3 linked regions of the Homo sapiens genome follow. The protein of the gene in region 3 purifies or fractionates together with the protein of the main gene of each other region. This does not show direct contact. Each region holds a gene or a part of one and is shown on either strand. Other genes may lie near its edges. The genes, in order: CCDC6, MAP7 and PPP4R1.

The links.
Region 1: the proteins of PPP4R1 (region 3) and CCDC6 purify together in Homo sapiens (affinity purification with mass spectrometry; 3 studies listed by BioGRID and IntAct, with this or other methods). This does not show direct contact.
Region 2: the proteins of PPP4R1 (region 3) and MAP7 purify together in Homo sapiens (affinity purification with mass spectrometry; 2 studies listed by BioGRID and IntAct, with this or other methods). This does not show direct contact.

Annotation. Positions count from the first base shown.
Region 1 is NC_000010.11:59,903,557-59,911,067, forward strand, and holds the start of CCDC6 (coiled-coil domain-containing protein 6), read right to left. Parts: upstream 3,001-7,511; 5' UTR 2,869-3,000; coding exon 2,566-2,868; intron 1-2,565.
Region 2 is NC_000006.12:136,365,407-136,372,569, reverse strand, and holds part of MAP7 (ensconsin), read left to right. Parts: coding exon 1-69; intron 70-6,130; coding exon 6,131-6,243; intron 6,244-6,551; coding exon 6,552-6,835; intron 6,836-7,163. UniProt on the Homo sapiens protein: Microtubule-stabilizing protein that may play an important role during reorganization of microtubules during polarization and differentiation of epithelial cells. Associates with microtubules in a dynamic manner.
Region 3 is NC_000018.10:9,583,398-9,590,560, forward strand, and holds part of PPP4R1 (serine/threonine-protein phosphatase 4 regulatory subunit 1), read right to left. Parts: intron 5,457-7,163; coding exon 5,314-5,456; intron 4,839-5,313; coding exon 4,692-4,838; intron 1,432-4,691; coding exon 1,324-1,431; intron 1,184-1,323; coding exon 1,118-1,183; intron 1-1,117. UniProt on the Homo sapiens protein: Regulatory subunit of serine/threonine-protein phosphatase 4. May play a role in regulation of cell division in renal glomeruli. The PPP4C-PPP4R1 PP4 complex may play a role in dephosphorylation and regulation of HDAC3.

The sequences.
Region 1 (7,511 bases), on a different chromosome or scaffold from region 3:
CAAGGAAAAAGAAGGCCACAATCACCTTTAGTGCCCAAGGACATGAACGTTAATATCATAATTAGAACTAAAAAGAGCCAGGAAGGCAATTACCAGAATTATGGTACCATCTTCCCTTCAAATTAACTAAAATAGTGAAAAATCTAACAAGGCCTTCACTTAATTATCAGAAACTTCCTAGCCTGCCACTAGCAAGGGTAATGCTTAAGTCAGCGATGTCAGGGATTGTACAGCTTAACCTTGACATAAACTACTTAAGTGTTGTTCAATGGACTCTACATTCACAGGCCCATTTCATGGAGTCACATAAATTTCTCCTCCCGCATTACATACCTGAGAGGTCAAACGTACCACCACAGAATCTGGATCCTAGGTCAGTTAACAAAACCTGCAAAATCTTGAAGGAATCTGTTTTCTGCATTTATCATTCAGCTCCTTAGTAACAACTGCCAAGTATTAGGAAACCAGGCGAACCACAAGCACTTTTTTATGTGTCTCCCTGAATATATTAGTCAGAAATTAAAGAAGAACTGAGAGGCTTCTGGTACTTGTGCAGTGTCATCTAAAACAATGTTAACTTTACTCATTAACACCACACGACATTTCACAAAGTATATTCGGTTGGATGTCAGTGTAGTTAAGGGTAAGTGCTAAGAAAGCAAGCCACCACCTTATACGCTCTTCTAGCCAAGTACTCAGAAGGCCTCTGATCTTAAACACCGGGAATGAACACATTTGTTCCTGCAAAGCCAACATGTTTAAGCACAATTTACAAACCTAGTTATAATACGGTCTAAGTGTCAAACAGATAACCCTTTCATAGTCTCTGCATCCCTCATTCCTCCCTCCCAAACAAAACCAGCCTGAATTGCCCACTGCATGCAAAAGGCTATTTTGCTTCATGCAAGTCTTACTACTTTCCATGGCTCACAGTCTCCAAGAGACTAACCCTCTCATTTACTAACTCAAACCTTAAACTGCCTCCAACAACTTCCCTCTCTTCTTAACCCCCACTCAGCAAAGACATCTCTGTCAGCGAAGAAAGCTGCATAGGAGGCTTGGAAGTGGCTGCCTCTGCAAATTCCCCGCCCCCCACCTTCCTACCAAAAGGGCACTTCAAGAACTTTACCATCTCACATGAAAGTTGCTCCAATTCCATTCTCCAAAATTGGATTTGAGCATGAAAAGTTTCTTTTTACAATCAACTGCTATTTAGGCTACTGATCACACTTAACTTGCAACTTGCTTTCTACACAAATTAAGAATGCCATCTAGTTCTCATGTATGAGCCAGCACTGGGGGTGTACACACGCGTGCGCACACATATACACAGCCTCCTCCACCGAAGGCATTTCCTGGCACAAGGGGCATCCTAAACTTGCTCCATTTCCAAGGTGTGACCCTCTATCCCCAAATTCATCCCTTTTTCTTCATTTCAAAGTTCAGCCTAATCCGCTATTTTGCAGCAGCTATGGCCATTTATCCCCCTTGATTTCTTGACATCATCTTCTCTGCTTCTGGCTGGGGAACTTTTGATTTGAATACAGTTGTCTGTGTGGGGATCCTTCATGTTAATGATGTGGTGAGCTGGCAGGGATGATAGGTGAGAGTACACAGTGTACTTTTTCTAGTTACGTTTCGCCTCATCACTGCTATAGGGGCCTTTCTAAACGCCTGCCACACCAGGAGAGAGACCTACAGACCCAAGCTTACCCGTTTCTGGGCAGCCTCCAGGGGACAGGTAGAAACAGAACAGATGGCCTGTTCTCCAGTATCTAGACTCAGAAGCAAGATACTTCTAACCACTCCACGAATGAAGCAAACACACGTACCTCTGGCTCAGCCAGGGAGTCACAGTCACTACCCTTCCCCTGGTTTCGGCCCCAGCCCTGTCCAGGCGTGGATGCTGCACTCTCCTCGCTGTAAACCGTCCACCCTCCCAACCCAAAGCAAAGAGCTTCCAACAGAGGTGGGAGCATTAGCGCCGTACCCGCCCTTCCCTCTCGATCCCGGCCAGAAAACTCCACTTCCCGGATTCCCGGCCACTCTCTCCCGCCCCCTCCCCGGGCGATCCAGCTAGCGCAGTCCAGATGCCAGCTTAGTGCCCAGTCCAGCTGCGAACCCCCACACTCCGAGCCAGGACCCAGTAAGAGATCCCAGCTTCCTCCCTCTTCCAGGACTGGGGTTCCCCAGATTCTGGACGCACCCCTCAAACATGCTAGGGCTGAAAAAAGTCCTACCCCGCCCCCCAGCCACGCCGCCAGCCTCCAGCCCAGCCCCGGAGGGGCCTCCTCTCCAGAGGCTAAAAGGGACCATGAATGGTTGCCACAGTAGCCTTCCCCCGCACCGCGCAAGGGTCCTCAGACCCCCGAGGAGGACAGACCCGCGTGGCCCCGAAGGGATACCTCCCTCTCCTCCCGGAAGCCAGCAGGTCCCCGCAGGGAGTGTGCTCTCAGAGGGTCCCCGGGAATCTGGGGAAGACTTGGGGGGTGGCTGGATTCGGGTGCAGCCCCTCCCGGGGCGGGCGGAGGTCGGCGCTGCGGCGCGTCCCCGGGGGGCACTCACGATGGTCACGCTGGCTTTGCGCAGGTCGCGGTTCTCCTCCTGCAGTGCCTTGCACTTCAGTTTGTAGGTCTCCAGCTCTATCTTCAGCACCTTGTTCTCTTGCTGCAGCGAGGCCAGGCGGTTGGTGAGCTCCTCCAGGCGGAACGGCGAGATGACAATGCCCCCCGACTTCCCACCGCCGCCGCCTCCCCCGCCGCCACCGCCGCCGCCCGAGGTCGACGAGCAGGACGACTGCATGGCGGCCGAGCTGCTGCTGTTGCCCCCCGCCCCGTCCGTGTCGCTCTCGCTGGCGCTGTCCGCCATGGCCGCGGCGGGCTGGGGAAAGGAGGAGGAGCAGCAGGGAGGCGGCGGCGACGAAGGCCGGGCTGCGAATGAGTGGGCGCCGGGCGAGCACAGGGGAGCGCCGAGCTGAGCGCCTGGCACCAGGGCGCAGACTCGGAGCGGCGGCGAGAGAAAGAGAGGGCGCTTCCCGCTGCCAAGGGACCTCCTCTGCCAGAGAACAGAGACCCCGCCCGGGCTTGGGCAGTATTGCACTGGGGCTCGCTCCAGCCGGGCTGGGCGCGCTCCCTAGGCCGCCCAGCAAAGCTGGCTGAAAGCTCCGGGACCCGCCCGCCGCCGTCTGGTGACCACGGGCGGGCTGGGAACGCGCAGGCACTGCGGGTGCGGGAAAGCCAAGGACTGCCCCCGCACCACCAGCTCGCCAGCCACACGTGTTCCAAGGGAGGGCCTCCGAGCCCCCTGATCTAAGCCCACGGCCGCCCAGCCTCTTCCGGGCTCGCGCCCGCCCCGAGAAAAAGGAAACCTGATGCCCCACCAGCCTCGCAGGTGCCGGGGACACGTGGAAAGGTCAGCCGGGCTCCGGCACCCATCCTCTACCGTGTTGTGGCCCCATCTTCCGCCGACTGTGTGTGCGCGTGTCTCCCTCTATCTGTTTCACACATACACGCAGTTTTATATTCTCAAAAGCAAGGTGTTTTTGACTAGGAAGGCTTGGATAAACCTAAGAGAACAAAGTTCCTCTACAAGAGGCCGAGGAGGATGAAACAACAGCAGCCACAGGTTAACCTTGTTAAGTAAGAATTTGCAGGAGAGACACACATCTCCTTTAATAACCTCATAAACCACACTGCGCTCAATTGTTTAAACAAGGTGCAACTGTTTTTTTCTTTTTCTCTTTGCATTTTGCAAACATTTCCAGCACATGTCTCGTAGTAGGATTAAGACAGTAACATTTACCTAATGAAGAAAAAAAAAAAGGAAGGCGAAACACTTTTAGTAGAAGATTGAAACACCTCTTTAAGTGCCAATTTTCCAAAGTAACTGCGGACATAACATTATGCTATACAAATAGTAATGATTGAGTGGGAGTGCAACATCACCCGTCTTTGCTATCCTCTTGCTCACTCCTAGAAAACTTTAGCATGTAAAAATAAAACAGTAATTACTGTAATGCGGTCTAATTCATGGTTCTAGCTTTGCAGTTTAAGAAATTAAAAATCAAAAACTTTTATTCCCCCTTCCTCTTCCCAAAGAAAGGCTTGCAGGAAATTGGCCCAGCAGGTGAGATGATTCTAAACACTTTGCCCTGTTGACACAAAACAGCTTTCACTTATGTATAAAAATTGGAAAGTGAAACTGACCAGACTAGTTTTATTACCCACGCTTAGTTAACATTACAACAAACACATGGTAATAGAAAATAGAAAAAAAAGTGTAATTTTTTTTTCTGTTGGGTTGAACTTTCTGAAAGATTTCTAAAGTGTTAGGAAGAAAGAAGAATGATTCTTATTCCCACTCCCTCATTATCTTTAAACCTAAATTTGATCTCATGATTAAACGGTGATTCAATGGCTCTTGGAAACTGGCACCTCAGAATAAACTCGAAAACACCAAGTGTTCCAAATGACATCATCTTTCACCAAGATGGCTGCTTTTAGCAAACAGCTTAAATGCCAACAGCAACTAAACCCCAGTTTCTCCCAGGTATTTTTTAGCTTAGTGCTGGAGGGCTTCTGAACTCTGTCACTGTTTGTATAGCAGGAGGGAGGAAATGCTTGGCTTTGCTCTTGAGAAACATATAGGCAATCTAAATCATTCTGTTACAAGTGATCCAGTTTAATTTGCACTGAAACTTAGTTCTCTCACTTTTTTGGGATCTAGTACATGAGACAATGAGTTAAATTGGAAACGGATTCTGGAAAGCTCACTTGAGGGTTGAAATGGAAGAGTAAAGCTAGCAGGGAGAAGCACCACAGGGGGAAACAGATTTAACAACATTCTTTCCCCTTTATTCAGCACTGTGATCGAATCTTAAGAGTAGGTCTGGCTGCCATACCTCACAAGTTTCTATTGCTCCCTATTCCATATTATCTTAAAGCTTCCACTTTTAGAGCTTATTGCAACAGGAACATTCCTTCCAGGCAGAGCAGGGGGCAAATTAACTCTCTCTTAGCGTCACCACAAAACTAACCGCCTTGGAAAGGCGGACTCACACTGCTTCAAGTCAGCAGAGGGGTGGAGTTTGAAGCGCCTGGTTTTCTTAAAGGGCCCAAGTCATGGTTAAGCTTAAGAATGTAGTGGCCTTCAGTGGAATTTGGAGGAAATTTGCATTTTGACATGGGACTTGTAGGTAGTAATCGTGGTTAGAAGACTTTAGGGAGAAAGCCATCTTCTAAAGCTTCCCTGCTGATACAGATGGGAATAAACTGGAGAATATTTTTTCACCGCGGTTTTTATTGTTATTGCAAAGCAGAAGCGTGTCTAATTTTCTACTTCTTGTAAAAGTGATTTCCCTTATAAACAGATCATTTATCACAACACTGGTTCCGTAATAGCATTACAATGGAAACACCAGTTACAAAACCAATAATATCATTATAAAATTCCTTCTCAGCTTTCTAGGGGAAATGAATCACAAGAACAAATGGTAGTATGTGCTGCCTGGAGGAAGAAGGGACAGATTTAGGTAATCACCTCCTTTGGAGAAATAATGAAATTTAGCTTTGCCCTCAATTTAAGCTGCAAAAACACATGAACAAAGGAAAAGAATACCTTGTAGTCTAACTGCAAGGCGCAACATCAAGATTTTTATTTGTCTAGTGCCATTTTTGCAAATCACTTACTCTATGGCCTTGGAACTTTAGTGTTTACAACAATAAAATAAAATAATAATGGCATAAATCATAGAGCAATTTTGTTAATTTTTAATATATATAAACAAATTGCTGTACATATCCAGTTACATTAATGTCAGATCTGAGTAATTTTATTCAAATTCTAAATGGATTTAGTTGTTGCAGGACCCACCATTACAGTTTTGAAAAAAATTAGGGTGAGCCAAGTATGAGCGGGATGTCACAGTGTCAGAAGTTGGATAGAAATATAGAAGAATGTGTCCATGTAGCCCTATCATTTCTCCTCCTTCTTTTTTTTTTTTAAGAGGCTAGGTCTCTCTATGTTGACCAGTCTCGTCTTGAATTCCTGGCTTTGAACTCCTGGCCTCAAGTGATCCTCCTGCCTTGGATTCCCAAAGTGTTGGGATGACCGGCGAGAGCCACTGTGCCCAGCCTAGGGCTATCATTTCTTGAAAAGTAGTTGATAGTTTCTTTATCTAATTACACCTTTAATTTAGAAGCTTTGTCTAGGTCTAGCAAGGCATTTCTGAACACTGACATTTGAGACTGGGTAATTTTTTGTTGTAGGGAGCTGTCCTGTGCATTGTAGGATGTTTAGCAGCCTCCCTAGCCTTTACCTAGTAGATTCCAGTAGTATGCCAGCCAAAAAATGTCTTCAGACATTGCCAAATATCCCCTGGGCAGCAAAATTACCTCCAGTTTGGAACCACTGAACTAGTAAAACAAAAGACAGCCCCATTTTGGAGTGGTTACACACTGATTAGATACCACTGAGTCACCAACAGAATTTCCTTCTCATTTTATCTTCTCAGTGTCAATTAGACAAGAGATCCTGGGCCCAAACAACCATATCCACACTTTATACTATTGCTGTCTTTAGCCACTCTATTTCTTTTTTTTTTTTTTCTTTTTTCTTTTTGAAGACCAAATTTCGCTCTATCACCCAGGCTGGAGTGCAATGGCACAATCTCTGCTCACTGCAACCTCCACCTCCTGGGTTCAAGCGATTCTCCTGCCTCAGCCTCCCGAGTAGCTGGGACTACAGGCACCAGCCACCACACCCAGCTAGTTTTTTGTATTTTCAGTAGAGACCAGGTTTCACCATGTTGGCCAGGCTTGTCTGAAACTCCTGACCTCAGGTGATCCACCCACCTCAGCCTCCCAAAGTAGGGGGATTACAGGCATGAGCCACCATGCCCGGCCCAGCCACTCTATTTCTACAACATGTTTTTTCAATATTTTACACTTTTTAACATTAAACTAGCCTTGCACATGCAACATCTCAACTTGTCAAGAGATCATGACTACAAGATTAATTACATATCTCATCCCTATGCTCCTGTTTTTATTCACTCATTATTGCTTCACAGGAACCAAAGCCATTAATACAGATGACAGTCTAAAGAAATAAGTCATCAGCTAAAGTAAATCATTTGAGAAGTAAGAATATCAGGCTGGGGGCAGTGGCTCATGCCTGTAATCCCAGCAATTTGGGAGGCTGAAGCAGGCGGATCACCTGAGGTCAGGAGTTTGAGACCAGCCTGACCAACATGGTGAAACCCCATCTCTACTAAAAATACAAAATTAGCTGGGCATGGTGGCACATGCCTGTAATCCCAGCTACTCGGGAGGCTGAGGCAGGACAATTGCTTGAACCCAGGAGGTGGAGGTTGCAGTGAGCCGAGAACACGTCACTGCACTCCAGCCTGGGCAACAAATGTGAAATTCAGTCTCGAAAAAAAAAAAAACAAAACACATATGATTTATGTGTCTGGAGCTTTGGCAGCCAGTAACATCTAAAACTTTGCCTGA
Region 2 (7,163 bases), on a different chromosome or scaffold from region 3:
GATCGACCAAAACTCTTTGTAACACCACCTGAGGGCTCTTCTCGCAGGAGGATCATTCATGGCACAGCGGTGAGTAGCTGTTGGGAGCAGCTGGGCAAGTCTGGGAGCCAGTGCTGTTCCTGTGCAGACTGTACATGACCCTGAGCTGTGGTGTGGGCGTAAGAGGGGGAGACCGTGACATCCACCATCCCATCTTTCCCATTGATCATGAATCTGGCTAGCTGGGCAGTAGTGTCCCCTCACTTCCTCTTCACTTGGGGATTTTGCTCTCCCTAAACATTTGAATTTGAAGATGAAAGCTGTTCTTTGTTCAAGCATGTATGAGTGGACGCCCTACCCTCCTGGAGCGTCCATACACATAAGTACAATGCCAGAATACTTTCATTTTTGAAAGTAGGAAAACCAAATGGCCTTTGAAGGGGAAGTGGGCTTGGACTGCTGCCTTGGCATTTTATTTCAACCATATCCAGAAGCTGGCTGAACTCTAAATGTGGTTCACTCAAAAGCAAGATAAAGAATTTTTATCCTGCTTGGCTAATCCCTGTCAAGGCCCTGTCAAGGGATCTTAAAATTTAGTCAAAAAAGTATTTTGAAAACATTAGTCATTTGCTATATCACTAATTCGTAAAAGGCTGTTAGGCTGTGCTATAAATTCTGATTTTGTAAGTGAAAAATATAATTTGTACTTATTATTACGGGCTGAGGTAATGTTAATTTTCACCATGCTATAAATGCAATGAGGTAATTTGTATGTCTCCAGGAATCTTCTTCTTTGTTTTAAATCTTGTGTTTATTTGGTGTCAGTTGAAAGATATAAACCTTGTTCTGTGGTCTTTAGACATTGTACTTTAGTCTTAAAGGACTCACCAGTGAACTAGAAGATCTCATTGCCTCTCTCCAGGATAACAGTATGACCCTTTTGATGAAAGGCTGAAACAGTTTCTTAAAATCGTAACTTCCCAGAGCAATTCAGATTTATAAACCTGATGGACACTTAAAAGGATTTTGCTTAAAGGATAATTCAGGGTTGTGAGAGCTTGATGGCTTTGCCTACAGCCTGTTTTTCTTTCAAGCTCCATCGGCCTTTCTGGAATCAGTGTTTGATTCATGATTGAGTCAGGCCTCCAACCCTCTAAGCCACAGGTGAAACAATCTTTGATGTCTGGAAAGTTTTAATTTATTAGAGTGTTGGTGTTTCAGAGATCCTCCTTAGCTGTAGACAGAAAGCCGTAGTTAAACAGAACAGGTTGGCCCCAAAGTTGGGTACTCACTGGGCAGGGGAAAAGAGCATTTACCATGGAAAAACTATCTTGTTCTGGGTAAAAACAAAAATTAACACTCCTTGAGAGAAGGTTGAGGGCCACCTGTGGCTGACAGGTTAAATGAGAGATTTGTCATCACATGATCCAGAGCCTTGTTTTGTTTTGTTTTTATTACCTTCCTCTTTCTCTATTTAATCACATAGCTGTCTTTTTACCTCTTTACAACCAAGTATTTAGGCAAATACTAACAGAAAACGACTCAGAGTCATTTATACCCTGGAGCTGCACTGTGGAATTCAGTAGTGACTGGCCACAGTGAGCACTTGGAAAGTGGCTACTGAAACTGACAAGCTAAATTTTAAGTTTTTAAAAAATATTTAGTTGTGTTAAAAAAAAAAAAAAGCATGTAACGTAAAATTTACCATTTTAATCATTCTAAAGTTCAGCAGTGTTAAGTATATTCATATTGAAGTGCAACCAATGTCCAGAACTTTTTAAGTCCTGCAAAACTCAAACTCTATACCCATTAAACAACTCCCCATTTCCCCCTCCCCCCAGGCCCTGGCAGCCACTGTTTTAATTTCTGTTCCTATGAATTTAGCTACTTTATAGACCACATAAAAGTGAAATCATGCAGTGTTTGAATTTTTGTGCCTGGCTTATTTCACTTAGCATAATGTCCTCAAGGTTCATTCTTATTATAGCATATGTCAGAATTTCCTTCCTTTTTAGGGCTGAATTATATTCCATTATATTTGTATACCACATTTTGTTTATCAGTTCATGTGTTGGTGAACATTTGGGTTGCTTTCACCTCGTGGCTATTGTGAATAACGCTGCTATGAACATGGGAATATAGATATCTCTAGAGATTGTTCTTTCAATTTCACTTGATATATAGGGATTGCTGGATCATATAGTAATCCTATTTTCAATTTTTTGAGGAGCCTCCATGCCATTTTCCACAGCAGCTGTACCATTTTACATTCCCACTAACAGTGCACAAAGATTTCTGTATCTCCACATTCTCGCCAACAATCGTGATCTTGTTTTTTGATAACAGCCACCTTAAGGAATGTGAGGTGATGTCTTGTAGTTTTGGTTTGCATTTCTTTAATGATCAGTGATGGTGAACATATTTTCATATGCTTGTTGGCTTTTCATGTGTCATCGTTAGAAAAATGGCAATTCCAGTCTTTGCTCACTTTTTAATGGGGTTATTTTGTTTTTGTTGAATTGTAGAGTTATTTATATATTCTAGTAGTAACCCCTTATTAAATATATGACTTACAGATACTTTCTTCTATTCCATAGGTTGCCTTTTTACTCTACTGATTGTTTCCTTTGATATATAGAAGTGTTTAAGTTTGATGTTGTCCCATTTGTTTATTGTTAATTTATTGACACTTTATTGCCTACGCTTTTAGTGTTATATCCAAGAAATCAGTACCAAACACAGTGTCATGAAGCTTTTCACTTATGTTTTCTTCTAGAGGTTTTATAGTGTTAAGTCTTACATTTAAGTCTTTAATCCATTTTGAGTTAACTTTTGTATATTTTAGAAGGTAAGAGTCCAACTTCATTCTTTTGCATTTGGATATCCAGTTTTCCCTGCATCATTTGTTGAAGAGAATGTCCTTGTTTCATTGAGTGGTGTTAGCTTTTGACCATATACACAAGGGTTTGTTTCTGGGCTCTGGATTCTATTCCATTGGTCTATATATCTTTTTTTTTTTTGAGACAGTCTCACTCTGTCACCCATGCTGGAGTACAATGGCACAATCTCAGCTCACTGCAACCTCTGCCTCCCAGGCTCAAGCAATTCTCATGTCCAGCCTTCTGAGTAGCTGGGAATACAGGCATGTGCTACCACGCCCATCTAATTTTTGTATTTTTAGTAGAGAGAGGGTTTCGCCATGTAGGCCAGGCTGGTCTTGAACTCCTGACCTCAAGCGATCCACCCATCTCGGCCTCCCCAAATGCTGGGATTGCAGACATGAGTCGTAGTGCCCAGCCCCATATATCTATATCTGTCTTGATACCATTACCACACAGTACTGATCACTGTAGCTTTTCACCAATTGAGTATCTCTAATTCAAAAATACAGAATGCTCCAAAATGTGAAACTTTTTGAATACCAACATGACACTCAAAGGAGATGCTCATTGGAGCATTTCACATTTCCAGTTATATGGATTAAGGCTGCTAAAGCAGTAAGTGTTAATGCAAGTATTCCAGAATCTGAAATCTGCACACTGTAATCCCAATCATTTTGGATAAGGGATACTCAACCTGTAATATGTTGTGAAATCAGGAAATGTAAGAATTCCAACTTTGTTCTTTTTCAAGATTATTTTGGTTCTTCAGGATCCTTTGAAATTTTCTGTGAATTTTGGGTTGAATTTTTATATTTCTGCAAAAATAAAAAATTATATTGGGATTTCAATAGGGAATGCATGGAATCTGTGGATCCCTTTTGGTAGTAGTGACATCCTAACAGTATTAAATCTTCTAATCCCTGCACACAGGACTTCCTTCCATTTATTTGTGTTGCCTTTAATTTCTTTCAGCACTATCTTCTAGTTTTCAGTATGCAGATCTTTAGCCTCCTTTGTTAAGTTCATTCCTAAGTACTTTATTCCTTTGGATGCTATAGGAAATAGAGTTGTTTTTCAAATTTCCTTTTCTATTTTACTTAATTTGAATTAATTTAGATTTAAATTCAAATAGGCAAATGTGGTTAGTGGCTAAATTTAGAACATCTTCATCATATCAGAAAGTTCTATTAAACAGCACTGCGTTAAAGTATCTGTCAGTGAATCGTCTCTGTTGGAGGATATTTATACTGTATTCTAAACCTACCTTAATTATAAAATTAAAGTCCTTTTCCTGCTGATATGTTGCCCAGACCATTGACTTGCTGAGTATGTGTTCCCCCTCAGCATTGTGGAAACTATTAATAGGAAAGATGATTGTATAGATGGTGGGCTATTAACTCAGATCAGGATGAGAATTGGGAGTGCCTTTACATGTGTGGTACCCAAATGGGTGGTTGGATATAAGAGTAACAAAAGGACTGAAAGGTTTAAAAAAGAAAGAAAAAAAAAAACTCCCTGGTTGGGAGGGTGTTAAGTATCGAGTGTTTTTCCAAACCATTCCTCCTCTGCTCACCTACCCCTAGGTGATTAAAGGAGATAACTTTTAAAAAAGAAAGAATTGGCTCAAAGGTACTGTAATTCTAGGATTATATACCTTTATATAGGTTCATTCCCTGATCCCTGTATTATCAAGGCACAGATAATAATAATCCCCAACCACCCCCACGCCACATCAAAAATTGTCCCTCTTGAGTCTTTTTCCCATTTACATCACCCATTGATCTGATTTCAGCCAAATCAAAATGTTTTGAGAAAAAGAAAAAAAAAGAAGGGCTACTTGAGGTACTTAACCCCAGTCTCCCCTGGGAAAAGACCTGGGCATGCCACCCTGTACACCAGCCAGGAGTGCCCCATATGGTGGCTGCAGCTTTTGATACCCAAAGCCCACAGCAGCTCTGTGAGGCCCCACCTCCTACTTTTGGGGACCTAAAATGGGAGAAATGGTGGTTGAGCAGCTGGAAATGATGCAGAGCTGGCACACACCTTGTGAAGCTCTTCTCTGCCTCTTTCTTCATTTTTTCTGTTTAGAAATCCCAGGGAGACAATGAGCATTATTTGACACTTAAATGTTTTTGCTCCTCTGATAACCCAGACCATCAACTAGGATGCTGCTAAGGAAAATGGAGGGAAGCAATTAAAAGGGACACTGAGGGGAACAAAAGGGAAAGGAAGGAAAAGAGGAGTCGATGCTTGAGCCAGGCAGAAAAGGAGAGAAGAAAAGGTACAGTACTAGTTCATGTGACCTGGGGCTAGATAATACTCTGCCCCTTCCCATGTACGCTTGCAGTCTGCCCTCCTGACAGGTGTTCACATAGGTGCCTCCAGCACGTGCCCCTCCCACCTGAGGGCATTGTCAGGTTTCAGATACTTGGAATGGGTCTGTTTTGCTCTGTACAATTTTTGTTTGTTTGTTTTGGTCTTCATTGACTTTAGAGTAGTGGAACACTTCTCTGGGCTTCCCTTTGCCCATTTTGACTTAGGAAAGTGTCATCTCTCAAGCTGAATTCCTAGTTGGCAATCAGGGAGGGGTGATGTTTTGGCCCACCTTCAGATTTCAGTTTATTCCTGGTAAGGAAGAGCAAAAAAATAAATAGCTGAAATTCCTCACTTTAAACCTGACTTTTCTTCAAAATCACCTATTGTATCAGTTATCTATTGCTGCAAGAGGACAGTAGGTGAAGAAGGACTTGATTCCATTATACAACATCAATATAAAAGAAAAAAATGAGTTTATGTCTAATATAGCAGGCATATAATTTTTTTAAAGACTGAGATATAGTGTGTTTGGGGGGAAAATGTTGAAGAATTAAAAAGAAAAAGATGTGTTTTAATTAAAATTTTTTAAAAAATGAAAGTAACATTTGACATTTGTGGGGGATAAACCAGAATGGGACGTTTTGCTTCAGGTAATTAATTTTAGACACAAAGTATAGGTGCTTTCTAAAAGTATGTACACACATATGCTTTTTGACAAATATGACTCCAACACATCCGGAATCACCTTATTAGTGTCACATTGTGTTAATTCAGTTATACTGTTCAGTGTTAAGCTAACAAGGGCCTTTTGTTGAGATGGAATGGGTATATGTGACATAGCTAAGAAAATTTCTTAAAAGTCATTCAATGGTTTCTAGCTCCACTGTTGAGTATTGTGAGTGTGTTTGCCTCGCTTGTGGAAAAATCTAACTATTGAGTTTCTCTGAACTTAGAGCTATAAAAAAGAAAGAGAGAGAGAAAATGTACTCTTCCTCACATCTGGCACCCGAAGGGCTGTATCTCCATCTAATCCCAAAGCAAGACAACCAGCTCGCTCCCGACTTTGGTAAGTGAAATATAAGTGGCTGGCTGGGTTGTTTCATGTTAGAGAATTAGTAGCTCTCTCCTCTGAAAGTGAACTGTTCTTCTCATGCTGTTTGGCTTTGACTTAGGGAATAGCATTCTTCCCAAAAGGAAAGAAAAAAGAGAAATTGGAATGGTTCCCTAAAGCAACTCTATTTCTGTATCTACCACATAAAAAACAAATACACGGAGCTAAATATCTGCATTCTCTTCCATCGAGTCGTGTTCTAGGTTCTGGCAAGCCTGTTCTCATGTGTCCCCTTTTGTCTGCCTTGTTTGTTTGTGGCCCAGGCTTCCGTCCAAGTCTCTTCCTCATTTGCCTGGCACACCCAGACCGACATCCTCCTTGCCACCCGGCTCAGTCAAAGCTGCTCCTGCTCAGGTCCGGCCCCCATCCCCCGGCAACATCCGCCCTGTCAAGAGGGAAGTCAAAGTGGAGCCTGAGAAGAAAGATCCTGAGAAGGAACCTCAGAAAGTTGCCAATGAGCCCTCACTAAAGGGCAGAGCACCTTTAGTGAAGGTAGAAGAAGCCACAGTTGAAGAGCGGACACCTGCTGAACCAGAAGTTGGCCCTGGTAAGAGCAAACTCACCTGTGGTCTGGGTGCTCTCTCTTTTTCTCCCGCACTGTTTTGATGAAGCTTTTTTTGTTTTCCTTTTCTTCTTTTATTGGAGACTTGGAAATTTTACTCTAAGGTTAAGTTTAATACCTTTCCTTAAGTATAATATTTTAACTTCGCATTGCTTAAAAATAGTTTTTTACTTAGCAACGCTAAGTAAAAAATTACCTGGCAACACTATTCCTGTGCATACTGGAGTTTAAGGACCCCTGGCGTAGCCTGTGTGCTTGATAGAAGTCAGAATTTTTTCCAGAAGACCCACTGGTTTTCACCTCTGCCAGGGTA
Region 3 (7,163 bases):
ACTCTTTTGCCCAGGCTGGAGTGAGGTGGTGCGATCTTGGCTCACTGCAAACTCCACCTCCTGGGTTCCAGCAATTCTCCTGCCTCAGCCTCCCAAGTAGCTGGGATTACAGACGTGTGCCACCACGCCCAGCTAATTTTTGTATTTTTAGTAGAAATGAGGGTTCACCATGTTGGCCAGGCTGGTCTCGAACTCCTGACCTCAGGTGATCCACCTGCCTTGGCCTCCCAAAGTGCTAGGATTACAGGTGTGAGCCACCACGCCCAGCCTCAGTGTTTTAAATGTTGGATTGTCTTAAAAAGTAGGATCTATTAGTATTTATACTCAACAATTTTCAATAAATCACATCTAATTTACTGTCTATTCCTAAAAGTATAAAAAATAATGTATCTTAAATTATAAATATATAACATATAATAATATATCTTAAATTTTAAGTTATTTCTTATGAGTCAAAATTATGTTTGCTTTAAAACGGACAGAAATGTATTATTTCACAAAAGTGATAATCAAAACCCTACCCAACATGAAAGATCACTGATAAATTAATAAAAAGTGCTGATAATTTGGTCCGTCGGATTTCTGGCTATGCAAAAGCATACTGGATTGTCTTATGCAATATTTCTGGCTATGCAAAAGCACTCCCAACAATCATAGCTTAAATGTTTTACAAGAGCTTGCCCCTGAACTTAATTATTTTGCATAAGAGATGGCTTCAGAAACTCTTTAGATATGGTGACTTATACATCAAGTATAGGCATCTTGTGTACTATTTAAAACTAACTTGCTATAGATTTAATATGTCATCAACATTCTTGAGGGTTGCAATAAAATTAAAGGTTCAATTGAATAAGTAAGAATTGATTTGCTTAACAGAAATGGAAGAGGTGAAAACAGATCAATGGTTCTGAAACATATCCATATTTTTAATAAATATCAAAAAGATAATTCAAATGCCCAGATTACAGATATTTAAACTCCTAAATTCAAAATTATCTTTCTGGTTTATATTCATGGAATTGTGTTAATAAAACTTTGGAGTAAATGTGTGCATTTCAAACTTTATGTACTACTTTGTAACACACACTGTTTACTCCTTTATATCTGCAATACTTACCAACATTTCTTCAGTAGCTTGCTGGCCAACTACACTGCAAATATCTCCAAAATTGGCAGCACAGACCTGACAACAAAAGCATCATTGACATTTCAAAATATTACACATAAGGTTCTTCTAAGATAATCTTTTAAATATCATGTATCAGTACATTAACCACTAGAACTATGTTCTTAAACAGCAGAAAAAAAACGACAAAAAAATACCTTTCGAACGTGAAACATTCTGCAATCGCAGCACATCTCACAAAACCTAGGGAGGATAAGACGCTCTGTAATATCCTTCCCAACCATGGGAGCCATTTTGCACATTATCTAAAATAAGTAAGAACAAACACACACTGAAAATATCAAGTAAGCCTCTTTCAGTTAAATTAAATAATAAAAGTATATAATTTGAGGAAACATAAAATATGATATGGCATCATTATACTATATACATGACAGAAAACATTCATAGCCAATTATTAATTTCATCTTATTTATCTAAGTAGGAAACAAAGACAGATATTAACCACAATCAATAAAAACAACCAATAAATACTGCATGCCCAGTAAACCCACAGAAAATCCTAACAATTTCATTTTTGTCCACAGTTTCCATCTTACTACTACTTCATCATTTTGCCTGGTAATTTTAAAAGCAAAACAAACAAACAAACAAAAACCTACATTTTCCCAATTTAAAAAATTGGTGACTGTTCAAAGGGAAAACTATCCCCAGGAAAGATCTAGATTTAGCATATCTGTATTGCTAAGAAAAAATTCAGTCCTCGCCTTGCAAAGCACCCTGTGAACTAAAGCTCATACATATCAGAACCATGTCCTGGTTTTGCAAAGCTTCAGTTCCAGGGAAAGCATGAACACAGTTCTGATATAGGCATGTTTCAGTTAACACAATAGGAGGCAAAGTGAGGATTAACTTTATTTGAAAACTGGCCCTCTATTTAGATACATTGTTCCCACAGTTAATACAGAAAGAAATGGGATAGCCTGTTGTCATTTATCAATTGTATCAATTGCTAGACTGTACAAACAGGACAAAATAAAGAAGTAAAAGAGATACAGATTGCAAAGAAAGAAAATTCTCTCTATTCAAATACGACATGGTTGTCTACACAGAAAATCAGAAGGAATCTACAAAGAAGCCACCAGAATAAGTATGTTTAGGAAGGTTGTAGGCTATAAATTAGAATATAAAAATCTATTGTATTTCTACAAATTAGCAATGAACAATGAACTGGAAACATTTAAGAACAGTATCACTCACAGAAGTACTTTTAAAAAATATGAAATCGAACAAAATACACACAAGAACTTTCTGCTGAAAACTACAAAAGATTAAAGATATAAATCAAAGACCTAAATAAATAGATCTACCATGTTCATAGACTGTGAAACTGGCAATTGTCTCCAAATTGATCTACAGATTCAACACTATCCCCATGAAAATCCCACCATCATCAGAACTAGAGATAACGCCTACATCTCCTAAATCCCAAAACCAGTTTTGTTTTTTGAATAAGCATCTCCATGCTCTAGTTAACAATCCAAAGTTATGCTGTATATCACTGATGTAGCATAACTAAATTTATTTAAAAATGAATTATTTTTATTAAGAAATTAATTTTTATTAAGAAATAATTATTATTTCTCTATCTATTAAGATAGAGAAAATATGGGAGCCATGGAATATAAAACATGACCAAAAAACAAACACAACTGTAAGAGAATCATAAGACTCCTACTAGCACTGGATATAGTTTTTAAATTTTTTATTGTAATGTTTTACTAATTTTACATTGCATCGAGAATTATAATACAGCAAGTTAAACGGCTCAATATAAACCAAAAATTAGGCCAAGCCCAAAACTGATTTCCTTCATTGCAAAAATCCTAAAGTGAAAAAAGAAATAATGATGTTTTGGAACTAGGAAGAAGTGGTGGTTATACAACTTTGTGAACATATTAAATGCCACTAACACTAAAATGATTTTATGTCATGTAAGGTTCACTTCAGTAAAAACATTACTGAAAAAGTAAATTTATTATTAACTGGTAACTGAGTATCTAAAAATAATAGATTCAAGAAATTCTTCAAGGGAAAGAGACTAGAGAGATCATCTAATTCATCCCATTACTGATGATCCAGAAGCACTAAATATAGTGTGATTATTAAAAAATATCAACAAAGACGCAACCATATTATTTTAGGCTTAAGGAGTGAACTCTTACTATCCAAATAGATATGAATAAATTTCCAGACGAATTTATCACTTTTCTAATTTACCATGAGAATTACTACTATCCGAACTCAGGAACCAGATGTGAATCACAACAGATACTACTCTATACTAATTCATGCCCTATCATGGCCTTCAAGTAATCAGAATATTTGCAAACCATGTCAAAAAAAAACCCAGAAACTTCCTATTACATTTGACTTTATGATGTGCGTAATGACTTAACAATCTGTATATTCTTCTGATAACCATCACTGATGTCATATATCCTGGGAAATGTACTTGCCTGACCATCCTTCCCACAAAGACCATACCTGTCAGAGCAGGAGCAAAGTATTATTTTATTTCCACTGTGCTTACACAGTGCCTAGAAAAGTGTTCAATACCTACTGAAGGGGTTCAAGTGTTTCTTCGTTCAGTCCAGGGTTTTTAAAATTTTAACTGCACTGATAAAATAACCATTTCAGTTTTCCACTTTGACATAATAATTTACAATTATGTATTTTTTCGTATTGTGTGCAGAAGGTACACTTTCCTTTGTAAGCCTTTATGTCCCTTTCTAGCCCTGATTGTATTTCAAATTTAATGATTTGTGGCAACTTTAACAGAAAGCAGCCTTTTCTTTCTTTCTTTCTTTCTTTTTTTTTTTTTGTTTTGTTTTTTTAAGACAGAGTCTTGTTCTGTCAACCTGGCTGGAATGCAGTGGAATGACCTCGGCTCACTGTAACCTCTGTCTCCCAGGTTCAAATGATTCTCGTGCCTCAGCCTCCAGAGTAGCTGGGATTACAAGCATGTGCCACCACACCTGGCTAATTTTTTTTGTATTTTTAGTAGAGATGGGGTTTTGCCATGTTGGCCAGGCTGATCTCAAACCCCTGGTCTCAAGTGATCCTCCCACCTTGGCCTCCCAAAGTGCTGGGATTACAGGCATGAGCCACTGCACCCAGCCCAGCCTAATTTTTTTTTTTTTCCTTGAGGCGGAGTCTTGCTCTGTCGCCCAGGCTGAAGTGCAGTGGCCTGATCTTGGCTCACTACAACCTCCACCTCCTCCCAGGTTCAAGTGATTCTCCTGCCTCAGCCTCCCAAGTAACAGGGACTACAGGCGCACACCACCATGCCTGGCTAATTTTTGTATTTTTTTGGCAGAGCCAGGTGTCACCATATTGCCCAGGCTGGTCTCCAACTCCTGACCTCAAGTGATCCACCCACCTCGGCCTCCCAAAGTGCTGGAATTACAGGCATGAGCCACCGTGCCTAACCCCGGCCTGACTTTTAATAAGCACCTCTTATCAGCCACATTTTGCATAAGTGGAAAAATGGCATTTGACTTACAGCCACAGCTTCTGTTTTCACATCATCATTGCTATCTGGGGCTGTCAGCTCTATGAGGACAGGGCACACTTTGGTCTCCACATCAAATCGTTCAATGAGCTCCTGCTCCAACAGAGCCAGCAAAGCTGCCTGACTTGTTTTCCTCACCTAGGAGAAAAATAACAACACAAAGAAAGTACATATGCAACATGACAAAATTCTATCACTTGATTTTTATAAACAAAGATTTCTCATCTCAAAGGGACCCATAACTGGCAAAACTCCGCAAATAAATATTTGTGTTTATTTTCTTCAACTATTACAAAGACTACAGAACTTCGTAGATTGTGCTGTAACAGAGGAAGTGGACAGAGCCATCCTGGTAAAAGATGCCTCACAAAGTAACAAACCTTTTAAGGGACCGCTAGGAGGTTACCAAGTGAGAGTGCAGTTACTAGGCATTGTCCATAATGGCATTAAAGGGATCTACTAGATTTGTCAGACTCTAAACACATCTTGTCTAAGATAAATATTCATTTTTGAAAAACAGTAAAACATTCCAAAGAGAACACTTAGGCTCGGCTATTCTCCATATATTACACTACGTAAATTTCTTTTAAGAACATATAAATGGTACTCTTACCTGATTATTCTGATCTGCAAGGTATCTAACCACAATAGGTAGTAAGAATTTTGAAAAAGCATATGGTATTGAAGGCCGGTTTTCTTGACAAAACAGTGCGATGTGAGGCACCTGTTCCATCAGCTCCGCTCTCACAGTTGGTTCTATTGAAATAACGGCAATGTGAGCAAACATGTTCTCCTGCAGCAACAAAACCTTTATCTGTTCTTGAGGGTACTTAGGAAGGCTATGGACTTTCATCTTCAAAATATAAAGGACTTGAGACAACATCCTTTAATTCTGCATTCCTTTTCAGAATCATACACAGATCAATCCCATGAGTGAAAGGAGGACCTTATCTTCAATCCAAGCTTCTGTTGTTCACAGTATGCACTGAGTATCTAACCATTTCTTAACAATAAATAAATTTATTCATCACCTACACTGTGCCACACTGTGCTAGGGGTTAAATATCCTATCTGATATTTACATCAATACTCTGACACATACATAGTATTATCCATAAATTCCACTATTTAAGAACCTACTAGGACAAGTCATAAAAACTAGTTCCTAATCTCAACTTAGTCAATAAATGAAAGATATATAATTAGACTTAACTAAGACTAAAAATGGGTAAATGAAAATTAAAGATGACAAATATTTTTTAAACACCTGAAAAGACCCAAGTGCATATGGCAAATTTAAATGTGAGAAATATGGCATTTCAAATTTCTGGGCTTCAAAAAGATGAAATGTCTAAGAAGCAACAGTAGGAAAATCAGCTAGTTAGCACGGAACAAAAGTTCCTACTGCACATCATAAAGATCAAAAGTACTAAAAGATAATATTAAATGTTCAATCTTGAGGTGGGAAGACAAAATCCAAAAATCAACCGTAAGACCAACTAATTATACATTATAAAAACTTTATTATAGGCTGGGTGTGCCTGTAATCCCAGCACTTTGAGAGGCCAAGGCGGGCAGATCACTTGAGGTCAGGAGTTCCAGACCAGCCTGGCCAACATGGTGAACCCTGTCTCTACTAAAAATACAAAAATGAGCCAGGTGTGGTGGTGCATGCCTGTAATCCCAGCTACTCCAGAGGCTGAGACAGTAGAATCACTTGAACACGGGAGGTGGAGGTTGCAGTGAGCCAAGATCGCGCCACTGCACTCCACCCTGGGCAACAGAGCAAGACTCTGTCTCAAAAACAAACAAACAAAAAAACTTTATTATAGATAACAGATACCAATACTCAGTTAAAAGGGAAAACAGCCTGGGAGCAAATTCATGTATAACAGAGTATTAGGAAGTGAACACACTGTTCAAATAAATAATAAGAAAGAAAATAAGGATACAAGTAGGCAATTCATAGAAGACATGCAAGTGACTGAAATACAGACAGACATGATGGATTATCAGTAACAAGTCATTGTATCGGACCTAACTAGAACTCTGATACCCATTATTATTATGCATTAATAAAGCTACATTAAAGTAAATATGTATGAATGTGTCTACTAGGATTTCAGATATCAACAGAGAAATTAACATACCTTTAAGTAGATAATACTGTATTTTACAAAGCTCAGAATCTTATCAACAAACCAATATCTGGAATTTCTATTATACTGTTGTACCATGTGAAGTTGGCCAGATATGAACAAAATAGAGTGTTTCTGTTTTGAAGAAAAACCTAATTTTTAAAAAAGTAAACATACAGGCCTCTGCTTTTCTCATGGATGCTGAATTTTCTAAGTTAACACTGACAATTGCTTATATTTTTGAAGCAAAAGGAGGACACAAGTTATGGTTTCAGTTAAAAATGAAATCAGCAACTTTTCTTTCTTCAAAGCCCCGCTTAGGCAA